Linked DNA regions of Homo sapiens: region 2 is linked to region 1. The links come from fine-mapping of genetic effects on gene expression. A gene starts in region 1. The other region holds a variant in brackets. All regions are shown on one strand. Distances are from middle to middle.

Region 1 (8,867 bases):
CACAGACAGAAAGAACACGAATGTGTTCACAGTCATTGTGCTCTCTGGGCGATGGTGGGATTAAGGAGGATTTTTATGCGTTTTACATTTTTAATGATTTTACAATTGTATTTCTTACAATGAACATGTATGACTTTAATAACAATCCGAAAAATCATTAAAATGAAGACTCAAAAAAACATTTTGTGCTAACAAAATGAAAAGCAATTAAGTGAATAAGTCAGTGATCGTTAATTCATTAGAAGTTGTGGGGTTTTTGTTTGTTTGTTGTCAAGAGCCAGGGTTGCCTAGGCTGGTCTTGAACTCCTGGGCTCAAGAGATCCTGCCTCAGCCTCTGGAGCAGCTGACTACAGGCATGTGCCACCATGCCGGGGTGTTCTCAAGGAAAAATTTTAAGGCTAATCTAATTGCCTTTGAACATGTCATTTGTTATTGAAAAAAATTTTTTTAATTTACTTGTCATTGAACTCACTGATAAGCTTTATTATAATACTAGAAAAATAATATCCATTGTTTTTAACCTTTATCAAATTATCCTTGGCACTTGAGCAAGTCCTATTTGCCAAATATTTGAGGGAATGGTTTCTGCTATTAACTTAATGTTTTATTTTCAATCAACCTATACACTTGGCAAAAATAATAACAATAATAGACCATATGTTTGTAAAACACTTTATAATTTTGGAAGGCACAATAAGTGCTGGGTACTAGTCTAGGCTCTGAGGATATAGTGAACAAAACAGTCAAAAGTCCTTGTTCTTGCAGTGCTCACATTATATTGACGTGGGCATACAATAGACAAATGAATAAGATATATAGATGTTGGAGGTAATAAGTGCTCTAGAGAAAAATGGAGAGAAGAAGGATAGGTAATGAACAGGGAACTGCTCTTTTAAATCAGTTTGATTACTGTTCAAACAGGAAAACAAAATACGAAGGTGTCTAAAAATTCTATAGCCTGTGGACAATTAACATATTCTTTTTCAGTTCTCAGACATAAAATGATTGAAGATGTACATGAAAGAATCATTCTAATAACTGATTACATATCATCTAAATTACAATGTGGTAATTATCAGTTTTACAAACTCATACAATTAGGATGAGTCATAGTGATGTTTTAACTATTCTATACCTGGCAGAATTAGATAGTCCTTAAACGTTTCAAGCCTCAGTGTTCTCATCAATAAAATGGGAACAAGTATAGTTCCTAAATCAGAGAGCTGGTTATCAGAATTCAAAGAGAAAATGCATACGTTTAGGAAACAGCGTGTGTGCAATGCATGTTCACAATGTTGACACTGCAGGCCACTGGCAGAGGTCCACTGGACATGGCTATGTGCTATCTGTATATGATTTCTTCATCCTCACACTATTCTGGGAGGTGTGTAACATTTATTCCCATTTTCAAGAGGGAACTGAGGCTTTGAAAAATAAGTCACCTTCCCAGAACCACATGCTATAAACCCAGGCGGTCCAGCTCCAAAAAACTGCTCTCAGCCGTGACTCTTGTTTGTGCCTGCTTGCTAATGGACTGCAGAAGCCCTCCTGGCCTCAGTTTCTCCCTTTAGGAGGCTGACAGCAGATGCCCCTCACCCTATCCTCTGAGTACTTCCAGGGCAAGAGTTTCAGACAATGGTCCTCTGAGGGTGTCCGGCTGATTATTCCTAAAGCCTGACAGTAATGCCTGCATCCCCGTCACATTCCCCACTGGCTGTGTTCCAAATCCTGAGCGAAGCAGGAGACTCAAGCCTAATTAGTTCCTGATTAACTCCTTTGGGAAGATGAGGAGTGAGGATTTTGGAAGACACAGCGACGTGACCCCTAGTGGGTGAATGGGGAAGGGGAGGGGGAAGCTACAGAGGAAGAAGAGGAGAGAGGGAGATTCCGTGTAGGAGGCCCCAGGTGGCAGCTCATCTTGCCTGTCTTACCAGGTGTACCCTGGCACCATGTGGACATGTTTCCTCATCTGAGATTCCTCCCCCATCCCTGTTCTGGGCAGCTGGGCCAGAACACCCACACAGCACAGGTGGCCAGGGACCAACATGGGTGTGAACTGGACCACTGCTTTCTTCCCATCACTCCTGCCCGCCCACCCGCTCCTTGCCACCTCCAGGATCCCAGCATCCTCCCCTATCCCCTGGGCCTATGCCCTGCTCTGCTCTGGGTCTAAGGTCCCAGCCACACAGACTGGAGCAAATCCCTTCCTGGGGACACCCTGCTCTGAAGTTTGAACCTCTCAATCACTGGCTCCATTTCCTCCCCGACATCCTTCATTTCTGGTGCCTCATGGCCCAGTTGCCTGGACGAATACATCATAGTCTGCGAAGAATCAAGGCTGGGACCCCTCAGACCTCTAGGCTGTCTCCCTGGTGCTTCTTGCTGCCTGTCTGAACCGTCACCATCGGTGTGTCCAAGCCACCTGACAGCCTGATGGCTCCTCAGGGAAAGCAATCCTCCACCCGGGAGTGGAGGGAGGTGTTAAATTCCCTTGTACGGAGCTCGAGCAATGGGTGGGTGCCCCTCTCTGGGGCAGCGGACATCAGCTAAGGGCAAGGAGGAAAAGGGTGCACCTTACAGTCAGATGCAGCCTTTTCACCCTGGAGAGAGATGGGAGGTAGCAGGGGAGAACTGGGCTGGGCGGTAGAGAGCCTTGGAGGAGGGAGCGTCTGAGAAAGGGTGGGCCCTAAGGAGAAAGTTTTGCTTTGCAATTAAATGTCAACAGCTTGGGGAATTCAAAGGCCTCCTTGGAGGGGGCTGGGAGCACCACTTCAGATTCAGAGGCACTGAATCTCAGCATCTACTGGTGCTGGACACCTCAGGACACCTGTAGCCCACCACAATTGGCCACTGGCTGCGTGCCAGGCACCAGGCTACATACCCTCACCAGCATCATCTCATTTAATCCTCCCAACTCACCTTCCCCATGTTCCAGATGGGGAAACTAAGGCTCAGAGAGGTTTGTGTCTTGCTTAAGGTTGTACAGCCAGGAAGTCAGCCAAGCCCACCTTCTGGTTCCAAATCCCTTAAACATCCCGCTCACAACAGACTCCTGCTTACTTTCAGATGAGGAAACTGAGGCACAGGGTGGTGAAGTCTCTCGTTCCAGCAGAGCAGTTATGTTTGAGGAGTGAGTCCAGAGCGGCATGCTCTCGGCAGGGGCTCATCGGAAATCGTGGCTCAAGAGCAAGGATCCCTGAACCCCTGCCTCTCACACCAGTTACTTGCGCCCTCCCTTTCCCAGCCTGCGCCCCGCCACCCACGCCGGCACCCGCCCGAGATGGACAGGGCAGTCCCTGGTCCTCACCGCTCTCCAGCCTCCAGACCGCAGAGCCCGATAGGGAAGGAGGAAGGGCAGCGAGAGTCAGCCGGGTGTGGGGTGGGCCCTGCCCCTGGGGAGCGGCGGCGGTGCCACTCAGCGCTGCGCAGCCAGCCTGAGCTGCCTGCCGCCTCGCCTCGTACTCAGCCTCGGGTCCCTCTGACAGCGCAAGGGAAAGTCTGTCCCAAAGTGGGAGAAGGTGCGGAGGGCGCGCTCTCTCTCCGACGCTCGGTGCTGAGACAGAGGCACGGAGACAGGGGCATACCCCAGGCGACCTGCTCGTCGAAGGGTCAAACTTCCTAGCTCAAAGGGGTGCGGGTGGGTTCAAACTCCAAACTCCGTGAAGCCCCAGCCCCTTTCCTCTCCCACCCCGACCGAGAGTGCGCCCTAGTTTTCCCTTCTTGGTTGGGTTGTTCAGGGGTCCCCGAAACCGAGGGCAAGCTGCTGGGGAGGCTGTCTTGGGTTCCCCAAATGCGGTTGATGCTCGTCGGGGACTCGAGTCAGGCAGAAAACCTGGATACCTCCCCTTCCCCGAGGCCCGAGGGCGCGATCAGGGTCAGCCTCGGCTCGCGCAGATCCCAGTGGCCAGCCCGGGGTCGAGGGTCCGCGGGAGACCCGGGATCCCGCTCCGTTCCGAGCGCGCTGCGGTTCCGTTCCGGACCGCGCATCCGCCCGCCCCGCGCACCGAGGCTCCGCGCGGCGCGCCCCCGGGTGTGTCGTTCGCCGGTACCACCGCAGAGCGCGGGGGAATGGGGCCGGGACCCCCCGCCCGCCCCTCCCCCGCGCCGCCCAGCCCCACGCCCCTTACTCGGCTTGGCTGCAGCGCTCCGCTCCGTGCGCCGCAGTGCCGGCTCCAGCTTCGGCTCCAGCTCCGGTTCCCGCCCCGGCTCCGGCTCCCAGTCCGGTTCCCGCTCGGAGGCCACTGCGCTCGGGCTCGGGCGTCGCGGGGGGCGCGCCGCTACGCTTCGGCCTGCTGGGCGCGCAGGGGCGGGGCGGGGCGGGCCAGGCGGGGCCAGGCGAGCCGGGCCGACCAGCCGCCCGCGATCCCGGGCCGAGGCAGCGGCGGCGGCGGCTTCCCAGGCCCCGGCCCTGGCCCTGGCCCTGCCCTGCCGCAGCCCCGCCCGGCCGCCCGTCGTCCCCGCGCCGCCGCCCACGCCACCGTCACCGGCCCCGGCCCCCCTCGGCGGCGGCGCGGCTCCCGGGCCTCAGCACCGCGGCGCCGCGGCCCGGGTCACTCCGAGATGCGGGGCGGGGGGCGCGGGTGCGGGGGAGGGCCGAGCCGCGCCCCTTTGCGCACAGCCAGCCCGACACCCACACAGCAGCAGGCGGGGCAGGGCGGCGAGGAGGCCGGGAAATGCGGGAGGCCGACGCTCCAGTCAGACGTGTGAAGAGGACACACAGGCGTGTGTAGGGAATGACACACGGACGCGAGCGGGGAGCCACTGACACGTGCAGAGAAGGGTAGACAAACGAGGTGTCAGGGAAGGACAGCCAGACAGGTTGGACCGAGGCTAGGCTGGGCATTTGAGCAGGGGACCCCTGTCGCGGGCAAAGAGCAAAGTGCGGGATGGAGAGGGGGACCCAGCGTGGCTGGGCCGCTGGCAGGGGCAGGCGAGCCTGGCAGGGCTTCCCGCTCGCGGTTGCTGGCAGGTGAGTTTTGGGATTCCAGCTAGGCCTGGCCCAAACCTTCCTTCGGAGCCACCAGCAGGCCTGTTTCCTTCACCCCGTCACCCTCCCTGTGCCCCCGTTCCCCGCTGCCCAAACGTCAGGGCATAGGGCTCAGCCCTGGCAGGTGGAAGCCGGCCCCGAGGGGATGCCTGGCTCAGGCCGGGGTTCCAGGCTTCCAGGACCTGCTCTGTCCCCACCCTGCTTTGGGGCCTTGGACGAATCCCAGCCCATCTCTCAGGCCTCCCTGTCCTCATTAGGATATTGCTCCCAATGATTGCACCCCTACTGTGTTGGGGTGCTCGCCAGCGTGGAGGAGTTATTTATTTAACCTCCGCCACTTGCCTGGGAGCGCCAGGAGGGCAGCGTCTGGGTAGGGCTGCAGGGGTCTGCACAGAGTGGGCACTCAGTGAATTTGCTGCAGGAATTGATGAAATGTGTTGTTGCTAACACTCTCTGAACCACTACTGTTGATGAGGAAACTGGGGCTTAGGAGGCAAGGGGAGTCAAAAGCTGGGTTCGTTTCAAAACCCAAAGGCTTGTCACTGGCGGGAAAGTGGTTCTCAAAAATAAAGCATGGTGACAAAGGGCTGAACATGTTGATGCTAAACCTTGGGGAAGCAGTGAAGCCATGGGGATGTTGTGGAAGGGAAAGTTGGCCAGGGACTGGCCTTGCAGGGAGGATGGGGCAGAGCAGGCTCCGGTGGAGAAAACAAACCCCAGCCCTGCCAGTCATCACGTCTTGGGCTTCCCTGGGGCCAGGCAGGGGAAGCTGCGTGGTCTAGGGCTTGGGTGCTTGAGGACATCTCCCAGCCTCCTCTGGTAACTGTTCATTCTGGGCTCTGCTCCCTGCACTATTTACCGCCCCCCCCCCGCCCCCACTCCCCGCCCTCCTGCAGGCTGGGGCTGTCACGGGGACATCAGCTCTGAGTAAGGGATGAGGCTAGAATAAAGGGAAACAATTCTCAGAGAACCGAGGAAGGGGACCTGAGAGACCCTTTGTCCAACCTCATGCATTTATTTTATGAATGAATAAATGAAGGATCAGAGAAAGGAGGGGATAGGCTAGGGTCAAAGAGGTAGGATTGGAGGCTCTACAACTCCCAAGCTAGGGCTGTGCCCACGGTATAACCTTGATCTCTCTGAGGACACCTGCTGACCCTTCCAGGATGGATATTCTAGTTGTTGAGTGGTTTTGCCTGTAAGCTGCCCCCTTTGGCAAGACTCTGTGTGTTTGTGTGTGTGTGTGTTGTGGTGGGGGTGGGGGGACCAGGGATAAGTGTGTGTGGCACACTTTGAGTGAGTCCTTGCGGAAGGTCCTAGCCCTAAAGAGTTAATTCCCGTCCACTCCCCTATTTGTGCATCACTGGCCTGGCAAATCTGGCTTGCTCCTCAGACTGGAACCAGGACTGTTTTCCAGTGGTGTTGGGTGTAGTTTCAGGGAGCTGGCTTATGACGGCGTGCCTACCAATCTCTGTGTGTCTATGTATCCATCCACAAATATATATTAGTGTAGGGCACTTGGAAAATACAAAAGGAAAAAGAAGAAAAGAAAATCCAGTCATTGTGAATATTGAGCTTTCCTGTTTTCCTTTCTTTTTACCTGTGTAACTCTACAAGAGTCCTTAAATGGAGTGAGCTTGCTGACTGATATCTCCTCTCCTATGTCACACTTTTAGTGGCTACCTAGCATAGGATCAGATGGTTGTATTGCACATATTTTTTTAACCAGTCCCCTATTTCTGAGCATTTAGTTTGTTTCCATTTTTCATACTTCTAAACAACACTGCAACGGACATCTTCATGGGGAGGCTTGTGCATGCCCATGACTATCCTTTATGTCTCTAGGTATGTCATAGTTTTGAGGCTTTCTTCGTGTAGGGTCAGATTTGCAGAAGGGGCATCTACTGGGTACCAGGGAGGCACAGTGGTGTTTAGTGTTTGCTTGGCCTAGGGATAGGTAGGGATGCTGGAGGGAAGAGTCTGAGGGAAATCAGGAAGTGAGATCTCAGGACAGTGAGATGCCCAAAGAGTCCCCAAGTGCTGGGCTTTGGGGCTTGCCCTAGAGTGTGCTTCATGTCACCCCAGCCGCTCACAGGGAATCCCAAAAAACGTCTTTTCTGTTTGCAAAGAACAGGATCCATGATGTCATTCATCCCAAACAGAGCCCATGGCATGGAGATGTTGGAAGGGTCTCTTGGGCCTGATCAGCTTGTACCTCCCTACCATCCTTCCTTCTTTGAAATGTCTTTGCTTTACCCCCTTACAAATTACCCAGTCTCATATATTCCTTTATAGCAATGTAAGAACGGCTTAACACAGCCAGGCTGCCCCTTCTGTCTTCCTTTAGGAGGGAAACCTCTCTTCTAGGACCCTGGACTAGGTCTCCAGGAGCTGAAGTATAAAAGACAGCCTCTCCTCTCCTATCTCCAGCGGCCTTTCTGGGGAAACTTATTTCTGGGGCTTCTTGAAGATCTGTATTCAAGGTAGAGTTTATTTCAGGGTAAGTGGCTGAGCGCTGAGCAGGGACTGGGTATAGAACTTTCTGCTCCTGCCCCCAGCCCAGTCCTGACATCTCCTTAGAGAGGCCTGACAATGTGTTAGTTATGCTACATGCAGCATTTAATTCCATCCTCCCAACATCCTGAGGAGGTGGGTAATATTTTCTTTATATTTCACATGCAGCAGTGAGGTTTATGGCACTCAAGTAACTTGCTCAAGGACACATAGCTAATTAGGAGCAGAACCCAGATTTCTACCTAAACCTGCCCCAAACAAGTTAGGCCAACCTGGTGCAGGCAGGTGGGTGGTGTTGCCAGTCACCAAGGAACAGAACACTAGAAGGGAATCAAATGTGAGAAAGGAGAATATGAGTTTGATTATACACATGTTCAATTTCAGGAGTCATCGGCAGGCAGCAGAACTCTGAGAGGAGTCCAGGTCACAAAGACAATCTAAGGACTGAACCCTAAGCCTAGGCAGAACTGATTGATCCATCCATCTACCCACCTACCCATCCACTCATCTATCCTCCTATGGGTCCACTTATCCTTTCTCCATCCTCCTATGATCTATCCGTTTATCCACCCATTCACCCATCTGTCCTCCCACTTATCCACCTAGGCCTCCTCCCATCTTTCAATCCTTCCTTCCTTCCTGCCTTCCTTCCTCCCTTCCTCTCATCTAACCACCTCCCCATCCTCCTACACATGCATTTATTCTTCCTCCCATTCACCCACTCCTCATCTATCCATTCAAACTCCCATCACCCATCCACTTACCCCATCTGCATCTATCCACCCATATGTCCCATGCATACTTACTGATGCTCACTACAGGCCAAGAACTCTGCTATGAACTGATGAAAAAAAAAAGGATGTGGAAAACAAGGTCCCTGCCCTCTAGGAGCTGGCAATGTGTTAAAAGAAGCAGATTATAAACAAATGATCCCAGAACAATATATTTTCTGTGCCAGATGTGTGCTCAAAGAAAAAACACTTAACTCAATCTGTGGAGGTCAGAAAAGGCCTCTTTGAGGGTGTGTTTCTTGAGTTGAGCTTAAAGTTCAATCAAGATTTCATCAGATGAATGGGATGCAGTGAGTGAGATGTTCCAGGAGAGGGAATAGCTTATGTGTACAATGATGGAATAGGTGTCAAGAGACCAAGGTGATTCCAGGGACACAGGTAACTCGGAACATTGGGAGCAAAGTTGAGTGTGAATGAATGGTGTGTTATGAGGAAAGACAGGAAAGGCAGGTCGTAAAGGCCTTGAATGATAGGGTGAAGGCCTTGGGAACCATATAAGGGCTTTAAGAGGGGTGGCTTGGTCAGGTTGTTATTTTAGAAAGATCTCTCTGCTGCATGGAGGATGAGTTGGGGTA
Region 2 (8,867 bases), 67 kb before region 1:
CGTTGGTTTCAAAGAACATCTTTATTTCTGCCTTCATTTCGTTGTGTACCCAGCAGTCATTCAGGAGCAGGTTGTTCAGTTTCCATGTAGTTGAGCGGTTTTGAGTTAGTTTCTTAATGCTGAGTTCTAGTTTGATTGCACTGTGGTCTGAGAGACAGTTTGTTATCATTTCTGTTCTTTTACATTTGCTGAGGAGTGCTTTACTTCCAAGTATGTGGTCAATTTTGGAATAGGTGCGGTGTGGTGCTGCAAAGAATTATATTCTGTTGATTTGGGGTGGAGAGTTCTGTAGATGTCTATTAGGTCCGCTTGGTGCAGAGCTGAGTTCAATTCCTGGATATCCTTGTTAACTTTCTGTTTCGTTGATCTGTCTAATGTTGACAGTGGGTTGTTAAAGTCTCCCATTATTATTGTGTGGGAGTCTAAGTCTCTTTGTAGGTCTCTAAGGACTTGCTTTATGAATCTGGGTGCTCCTGTATTGGGTGCATATATATTTAGGATAGTTAGCTCTTCTTGTTGAATTGATCCCTTTACCATTATGTAGTGGTCTTCTTTGTCTCTTTTGATCTTTGTTGGTTTAAAGTCTGTTTTATCAGAGACTAGGATTGCAACCCCTGCCTTTTTTTGTTTTCCATTTGCTTGGTAGATCTTCCTCCATCCCTTTATTTTGAGCCTATGTGTGTCTCTGCACGTGAGATGGGTTTCCTGAATACAGCACACTGATGGGTCTTGACTCTTTATCCAATTTGCCAGTCTGTGTCTTTTAATTGGAGCATTTAGCCCATTTACATTATTGTTATGTGTGAATTTGATCCTGTCATTATGATGTTAGCTGGTTATTTTGCTCATTAGTTGATGCAGTTTCTTCCTAGCCTCAGTGGTCTTTACAGTTTGGCATGTTTTTGCAGTGGCTGGTACCAGTTGTTCCTTTCCATGTTTAGTGCTTCGTTCAGGAGCTCTTTTAGGGCAGGCCTGGTGGTGAGAAAATCTCTCAGCATTTGCTTGTCTGTAAAGTATTTCATTTCTCCTTCACTTATGAAGCTTAGTTTGGCTGGATATGAAATTCTGGGTTGAAAATTCTTTCCTTTAAGAATGTTGAATATCGGCCCCCACTCTCTTCTGGCTTGTAGAGTTTCTGCCGAGAGATCAGCTGTTAGTCTGATGGGCTTCCCTTTGTGGGTAACCCGACCTTTCTCTCTGGCTGCCTTTAACATTTTTTCCTTCATTTCAACTTTGGTGAATCTGACAATTATGTGTCTTGGAGTTGCTCTTCTCAAGGAGTATCTTTGTGGCATTCTCTGTATTTCCTGAATATGAATGTTGGCCTGCCTTGCTAGGTTGGGGAAGTTCTCCTGGGTAATATCCTGCAGAGTGTTTTCCAACTTGGTTCCATTCTCCCCGTCACTTTCAGGTACACCAATCAGATGTAGATTTGGTCTTTTCACATAGTCCCATATTTCTTGGAGGCTGTGTTCTTTTTATTATTTTTTCTCTAAACTTCTCGCTTCATTTCATTCATTTGATCTTCCATCACTGATACCCTTTCTTCCAGTTGATCGAATTGGCTACTGAGGCTTGTGCATTCGTCACGTAGTTCTCATGCCTTGGTTTTCAGCTCCATCAGGTCCTTTAAGGACTTCTCTGCATTGATTATTCTAGTTAGCCATTCGTCTAATTTTTTTTCAAGGTTTTTAACTTCTTTGCCATGGGTTTGGACTTCCTCCTTTAGCCTGGAGTAGTTTGATCATCTGAAGCCTTCTTCTCTCAACTCGTCAAAGTCATTCTCCGTCCAGCTTTGTTCTGTTGCTGGTGAGGAGCTGTGTTCCTTTGGAGGAGGAGAGGCACTCTGATTTTTAGAGTTTCCAGTTTTTCTGCTCTGTTTTTTCCCCATCTTTGTAGTTTTATCTACCTTTGGTCTTTGATGATGGTGACGTACAGATGGGGTTTTGGTGTGGATGTCCTTTCTGTTTGTTAGTTTTCCTTCTAACAGTCAGGACCCTCAGCTGCAGGTCTGTTGGAGTTTGCCGGAGGTCCACTCCAGACCCTGTTTGCCTGGGTATCAGCAGCAGAGGCTGTAGAACAGCGGATTTTGGTGAACAGCAAATGTTGCTGCCTGATCGTTCCTCTGGAAGTTTTGTCTCAGAGGAGTACCCAGCTGTGTGAGGTGTCAGTCTGCCCCTACTGGGGGATGCCTCCCAGTTAGGCTACTCAGGGGTCAGGGACCCACTTGAGGAGGCAGTCTGTCCATTCTCAGATCTCCAGCTGCATGCTGGGAGAACCACTACTCTCTTCAAAGCTGTCAGACAGGGACATTTAAGTCTGCAGAGGATTCTGCTGCCTTTTGTTTGGCTGTGCCCTGTCCCCAGAGGTGGAGTCTACAGAGGCAGGCAGGCCTCCTTGAGCTGCAGTGGGCTTCACCCAGTTCGAACTTCCTGGCTGCTTTGTTTACCTACTCAAGCCTTGGCAGTGGCGGGCGCCTCTCCACCAGCCTTGCTGCCACCTTGCAGTTTGATCTCAGACTGCTGTGCTAGCAATGAGCGAGGCTCCGTGGGCGTAGGACCCTCTGAGCCATGCGCGGGATATAATCTCCTGGTGTGCCATTTGCTAAGACCATTGGAAAAGCGCAGTATTAGGGTGGGAGTGACCCAATTTTCCAGGTGCCGTCTGTCACCCCTTTCTTTGACTAGGAAAGGGAATTCCCTGACCCCTTGCGCTTCCTGGGTGAGGCGATGCCTCACCCTGCTTTGGCTCATGCTTGGTGCGCTGCACCCACTGTCCTGCACCCACTTTCCAACACTCCCCAGTGAGATGAACCCGGTACCTCAGTTGGAAATGCAGAAATCACCCGTCTTCTGCGTCGCTCATGCTGGGAGCTGTAGACTGGAGCTGTTCCTATTCGGCCATCTTGGCTCCACCTCCTAATTTTTTTTTTTTAATAGAGACAAGGTCTTACTATGTTGTCCAGGCTGGTCTCAAACTCCTGGGCTCAAGTGATCCTCCCATCTTGGCCTCCCAAAGTGCTGGGATTATAGGTATGAGCCACCGCATCTGGCCTCACTTGTTTTTGATGTTCCTGATGGAGGCTTGTGGCTGGGGTGTGGCTCCCTCACTTTCCCGATAATGCTCCACACCCTGACAGCTCTCCAGCTTGGCTGTGGGCTGCCAGATGCTGTGCTAAGTGATTAGGATGGGTGGATGGATGGATGGTTGGATGGATGAATGGCTGGATGGATAGAAGGAAGGAAGGGAGGAAGGTGGGAGGTGGGGATGGATGGATGGAAGGATGGATGGATGGATGGATGGTTGGATGGAGGGAAGGAAGGAAAGAAGGACGGAAGGATCAAGGGCAGGAGGGAGGTGGGAGGCAGGGATGGATGGATGGTTGGATGGAGGGAAGGAAGGAAAGAAGGAAGGAAGGAAGGAAGGATCAAGGGCAGGAGGGAGGTGGGAGGCAGGGATGGATGGACGGTTGGATGGAGGGAAGGAAGGAAAGAAGGAAGGAAGGATCCAGGGTGGGAGGGAGGTGGGAGGCAGGGATGGATGGATGGTTGGATGGAGGGAAGGAAGGAAGGAAGGATCAAGGGAAGGAGGGAGGGTGGGAGGCAGGGAGGGATGGATGGTTGGATGGATGAGTGGGTGATAACCAGCGTGCCCTGTGCTGCCCAGTGCATACTGCTTCCTGATTTGTGTCTCAGAAAGCCTGTGTAGGGGCTGTTTTAGGACTGCTGTCTGACTTGGATGCAGGTGGAGCCAAAGCTTTTAAAATCCTTCCAGCCTGAGGCCCCCCCTTGGTCTTAAGGACTGAAAGTGGTGTGGTTATATGCTCAGTTTCAGGGAGAGCAAAGGCAGGTACCAACAATTATTAAACACCTGCTTTGCACCCTGAAGGGAC[C/G]TTCACCTATTTAATTTTTCCCATTTCACAGATGGGAAGCCTAGAGGCCGTCCCTGGGTTAGTGACACCTGCCACCACATAGAGAAGCCCCTGGTTGGAGGAGGATGCCCTCTGTTGGGATCCCAATGAGGAATGACTAAGGGCATGTGTATGTGCATGTGCCATACCTGAATGTACCTATTTGTGTGCACATGTGCATGTATATGTGTACATAAAGGGGCAGGAGATGGCAGGTAGAGGGGGTGCCCCCGCTCCTGGATGGAGAGCAGGCATGAGAGTTGACCCTGAGCTCCCAACAAATTAGCCGAAAGAAAAGGGAGGCCAGTAGTGGATCCTAGATGGATTAAGGGTGTACTACACATCCAGTTGTCTACACATCTATGCCCTCTTTATTTGCACTGTGATAGGTGAAATGGGTCTGAAGGCTGCTGAGGGAAGCGGCTACTCAGAGCTGCAGGATGACCTACCCAGGGTCACACAACTGAACTGGGACATGAAGAGGACAGAAAACCTAAAGGGAGGGGCCCTTCTCTGGGTCGGTCTCTGATGGGCACTGAGCACACCTCACCTCACTAACTCTTCCCAGCCTCCTGGGAAGGAGGTCTGACCATAGTCACTTTACAGATGAGGAAAACGAGGCTCATAGAGGTGGAGTGAGTTGCCCAAGGTCACACAAGCCATCGATGGCAGGGCTGGAATTTGAGACCTTTTGGGGTTAGCAGATTGGCTCCTATGCCTCACAAGCAAGCCATAGGTTTGGCCACTCTTCCCCCGTGCCCTGCTTCTCCTCCTGTGCTGTGATCCCAGGTCTAGCACCTCTCCCAGCAGTCACCTCCTGGTGGACATCACAGTGAGAGCTATTTGCTTATTCAGGGTGCCTGCCCTGTACTAGCGAGAGATCACTCCCTCAGCTATTGCTGGGATGGTGTCTTTGGGTGGGTACTGGTGCCACCAGCCCCCACTGGGGGTATAGTGGGTGCTGGGGTGCTCTCATCCATGCAGGGGAGCCTGGGTAGACCTCCAGAATGGAGTGACTCCACTTTCTGGGCTGCCGTCATCACCAGTTGGCTCTGGCCCCACAAGAGGCCCTAGTTGTCCATCTTCCTCCACCTCAGGGCGTGGGATGCCTCTAGGATGGCCTGCAGGAGTTGAGGGACCAAGAAGGTGAGGGAGCACTCACAGAGCTCATTCCTCTCGGAAGAGGTGCTGGGAGGTGCGGCGTCTATTCTGGGGCTGGCCAGCTCCAGCTATGCTTCTGGCTTCCGGTCTAAGGGCTGCCCTGGAGATTGGGGACCTGGTGTCGGGCAGAGCTGGCTGAGAATGGTGACTTTTCTGCTCTCAGGAACTGCATCCGAGACCAGGGGCTGCCCCCTGCTGCACCCTGAGGCGGTGACCACCTCACCCGATGAAGGGCCAGGGGCCAGGGCTGGGCCTGGGAGTTGGTTTCCCTTCAGGCTTCTCAGGAAAATGTCCTTGGGAAACCAGGGCATCCAGTGTAAGACAGGGTCACTGAAGCAAGGCAGGACCTCCTCACTGTCCAGGCATGTGCTGCCATGGCACTGGGGGCCCTAGAGGACTGGAGAGCCACTGGGGAGGCTGTTGGGGGCTGTTGAGACCTCAGATGGGCTCAGAGCCATGGGCAGAGATCTCTGGCCAGCAGTGCCCTCTGCCAGGGCCGTCTCGGACCCCACCCCTTCTGAGGGACCTTGCTGTGGTCCCCCGGAACCTGGGCCTGGCTGAACCCCCTCGAGGCAGCTGCAGGGCTTCACCAGCCTTTTCTCTGAGCTGTGCCTGCTGTGGGTCCTAGCGAGTTTCTCTGTGCCCGGCTCAAGCATCCGTGTGCCCGCGGTTCTGAGAACGGCTTCACATGAGACCCTCACCAGGAAGATCTTGAACACCATCTGCTTGACATTCTCTTTGCTGATGGCCTGGACCAGTGAGAACTCAGACTCCAAGGTGGCCGTGTAGCCCAGCCTGCCCAGGATGGCGTCCAGTTTGTGTCTGGAAAGCATAGATCGCACCCAGTAGGTAAAGCTCCCAGTGTACATCTAGAACAGACAAGGGAGCTTGTTAGGAGTGGGACAGGCCTCAGCAGAGTGGCTGAGAGGGGCCAGGCCAGGCAGGACCAAGGGCTGGTGCCGAGGGACACCAGGGGCTCCTGAGAAGCACGTGGATGAGGGCATTTGGCCAAAGGAAAGCCTGGCCCATGATCAGGGGTACACTGAGGCTCAAAGACAAAGCAGGATCTGTCCAAAGACACTCAGAAAGTGGCTGGGTGTGGTGGCTCACACCTGTAATCCCAGCACTTTGGGAGGCCAAGGAGGGCGGATCACCTGAGGTCAGGAGTTCGAGACCAGCCTGGCCAACATGGTGAAACCCCTCTCTACTAAAAATACAAAAAAATTAGCCGGGCATGGTGGCAGGCGCCTGTAATCCCAGCTGTTTGGGAGGCTGAGGCAGGAGAATTGCTCGAACCCAGGAGGTGGAGGTTGCAGTGAGGACAGATTGCACCACTGCTCTCCAGCCTGGGCCACACAGCGAGACTCCATCTCAAAAAAACAAAAAAACGCAAAAAGAGAGTGACTGAGCTGGGGTAAGGCTCTAGGTATCCCAGCTCCCAGCCTAGCAGTCAGGGCCTGGAGCAGGAAGAAATTAAAACTCTGGTAGGGGCCGAGTGTGACTGCTCACATCTGTAAACCCAGCACTTTGGGAGGGCGAGGCAGGAAGATCACTTCAGGTCAGGAGTTTGAGACCAGCCTGGCCAACATGGTGAAACCCCGTCTCTACTAAAAATACAAAAATTAGCCAGGTGTGTTGGTGGACACCTGTAATCCCAGCTACTCAGGGGGCTGAGGCAGGAGAATCGCTTGATCCTGAGAGGCAGAAGTTGCAGTGAGCCAAGATCGCGCCACTGTACTCCAGCCTGGGTGACAGAGCAAGACTCTGTCTCAAGAACAAAACAAAATGAAAAACAACAAAAAAACAAAACCTCTCTGGTAGCTCTCTAAAGCCCAACTCCTCCCGTTGTTTATTATGAGCACCTTGGTTCATCTTTCCTCGGAGAGGCAGTAACAGTCCAGTGCAGGAGTCCCCAATCCCCAGGCCTTGGACCAGTACTGGTCTATGGTCTGTTAGGAACCTGGCCGCACAGCAGGAGGTGAGTGGCGGGCAAACAAGCATTATCACTTGAGCTCCGCCTCCTGTCACGATCAGCAGTGGCATTAGATTCTCATAGGAGTGGAACCCTATTGTGAACTGTGCATGAGAGGGATCTAGGTTGCGTGCTCCTTATGAAAATCTAATGCTTGATGGTCTGAGGTGGAAGAGTTTCATCCTGAAACTAACCCCCGCCCCCATCCCTCCACCCTGTCTGTGGAAAAATTGTCTTCTGTGAAACTGGCCCCTGGTGCCAAAAAGGTTGGGGACCGCTGGTCTCGTGGTTAGGAGCAGTTGTACCACTTGCTAGCTGTTGACCATGGATAAGTTGCATCTGTCTCTTTAGCCCTCAATTTCTTAAACTGAAATGGGACTGAAGTCAATGGATATGATGGGCATGCTGTTTCTCCCAGAGGCAGAGCCCCAACCCCTGGCTGAATCCCCCTTGCTCAGACATGTGGCAGTGCCTACCTTTAGGGACCTGATTTCCTTCCTCCAGGGAAACAGAAGCAGGTTGACAGAGATCAGCTCCAGGAACTCTAGTGCATGCACCAGCTCAGGGCTGACTTTTGGGACAGGGCTGGGATCCCCACAACAGCAGCCACCCAGAGCAAGGGCCACTTCCTCTGGCAGACAGAGCCATGGAGGGGCCCTCCTGCCCAGGAGCCACCTGGCCCTGTGGGTGAGGGCTGCTTGCCTGCAGACATCGAGCCGGCCCTCCCCTGCTCTCTCCTGGTAGTAGCTGATGATGTTGCCCAGGAGGGTCTCACCCAGAGCAGCTTCGCCTGGGCCTGGGGATTGGGACCTGCTCATGGTGGCTTCGGGGGGGCTGGATATGGAGGATAGAGTCCTGTCCCAGGCCAGGCTCAGGCTGGGCACTTGGAGGAATGGATGGGTCCTGCCTCTCCTGCTCCAAAGCCCAATCTGGAAGCAAAGGAGGAAGTTGTGCTAGCAAGAGATAAAGCTATGTGCAGCCAGGCCCTGCCACTGCTTGTCACTCTGAAAAGCTGAGATTGGAGGGTGACCGGGCCCCTCCCAGTGGAGCAGGGCCTAGGTCAGGATTTGTCCTTTCTTTGTCCCCCTGCCCCACAAAAAATGAAGACCAGGCACATCAGCATCTGCATCTTTCCACACTACCATCCCATCCAGATATCCCCAGTAATGCCTCATGCCTTGAGTGCTGCTGGCTGCAGAGGCATACTCTGCTAGTGTGCGGGACAGGCTGGAAGCGCCAGGAAGGTGGCGACCCTCAACCAACCAAGGGCCAGCGGGGTGAGAGTTACTGGATAGAAACCCCAGCTTCCTGCCCCTGGGTGGCCAATTCTTAGGTATGTTTTTGTAAATTGAAAAGTGTCGGAGGCAGATCTCAATCAATTTAGAGGTTTCTTTTTATTTTATTATTTTATTTTATTTTATTTTATTTTATTTTATTTTATTTTATTTTATTTTATTTTATTGAAACAGAGTCTTGTTTTGTTGCCCAGGCTGGAGTGCAGTGACGTGATCTTGGCCCACTGCAATTTCCACCTTCTGGGTTCAAGCGATTCTCCTGCCTCAGCCTCCCAAGTAGTTGGGACTACATGCATGTGCCACTATGCCTGGCTAATTTTTTTTTTTTTTTTTTTTTTTTTTTTTAGTAGAGATGGGATTTCACCATGTTGGCCAGGCTGATCTCAAACTCCTGACCTGAGGTGATCTGCCCACTTTGGCCTCCCAAAGTGCTGAGATTACAGGCATGAGCCACCGCATCTGGCTGAGGACCTGGGTCTTGATTGTCATTTGCTTTCTATGAGACTCTGCTGGGCTCCTGCCTCTCCAG

Evidence for each region. PIP is the estimated chance that this variant, and not a neighbour inherited with it, causes the effect.
Region 2: its variant is fine-mapped to the expression of BEAN1 in thyroid (GTEx, PIP 0.93).

The regions. Positions count from the first base shown.
Region 1 is chr16:66,422,692-66,431,558 of GRCh38, reverse strand. It overlaps BEAN1 (brain expressed associated with NEDD4 1), which reads right to left and starts at 4,264. Exons shown (of 5, transcript NM_001178020.3): 1 at 4,128-4,264. RefSeq lists an enhancer at 2,836-3,436.
Region 2 is chr16:66,490,035-66,498,901 of GRCh38, reverse strand. It overlaps a transcript of BEAN1 not described here. Among named protein-coding and RNA genes, the nearest start is that of BEAN1-AS1, 18 kb to the right of the region's middle. The variant C/G (reference allele first, on the strand shown) is at 3,893.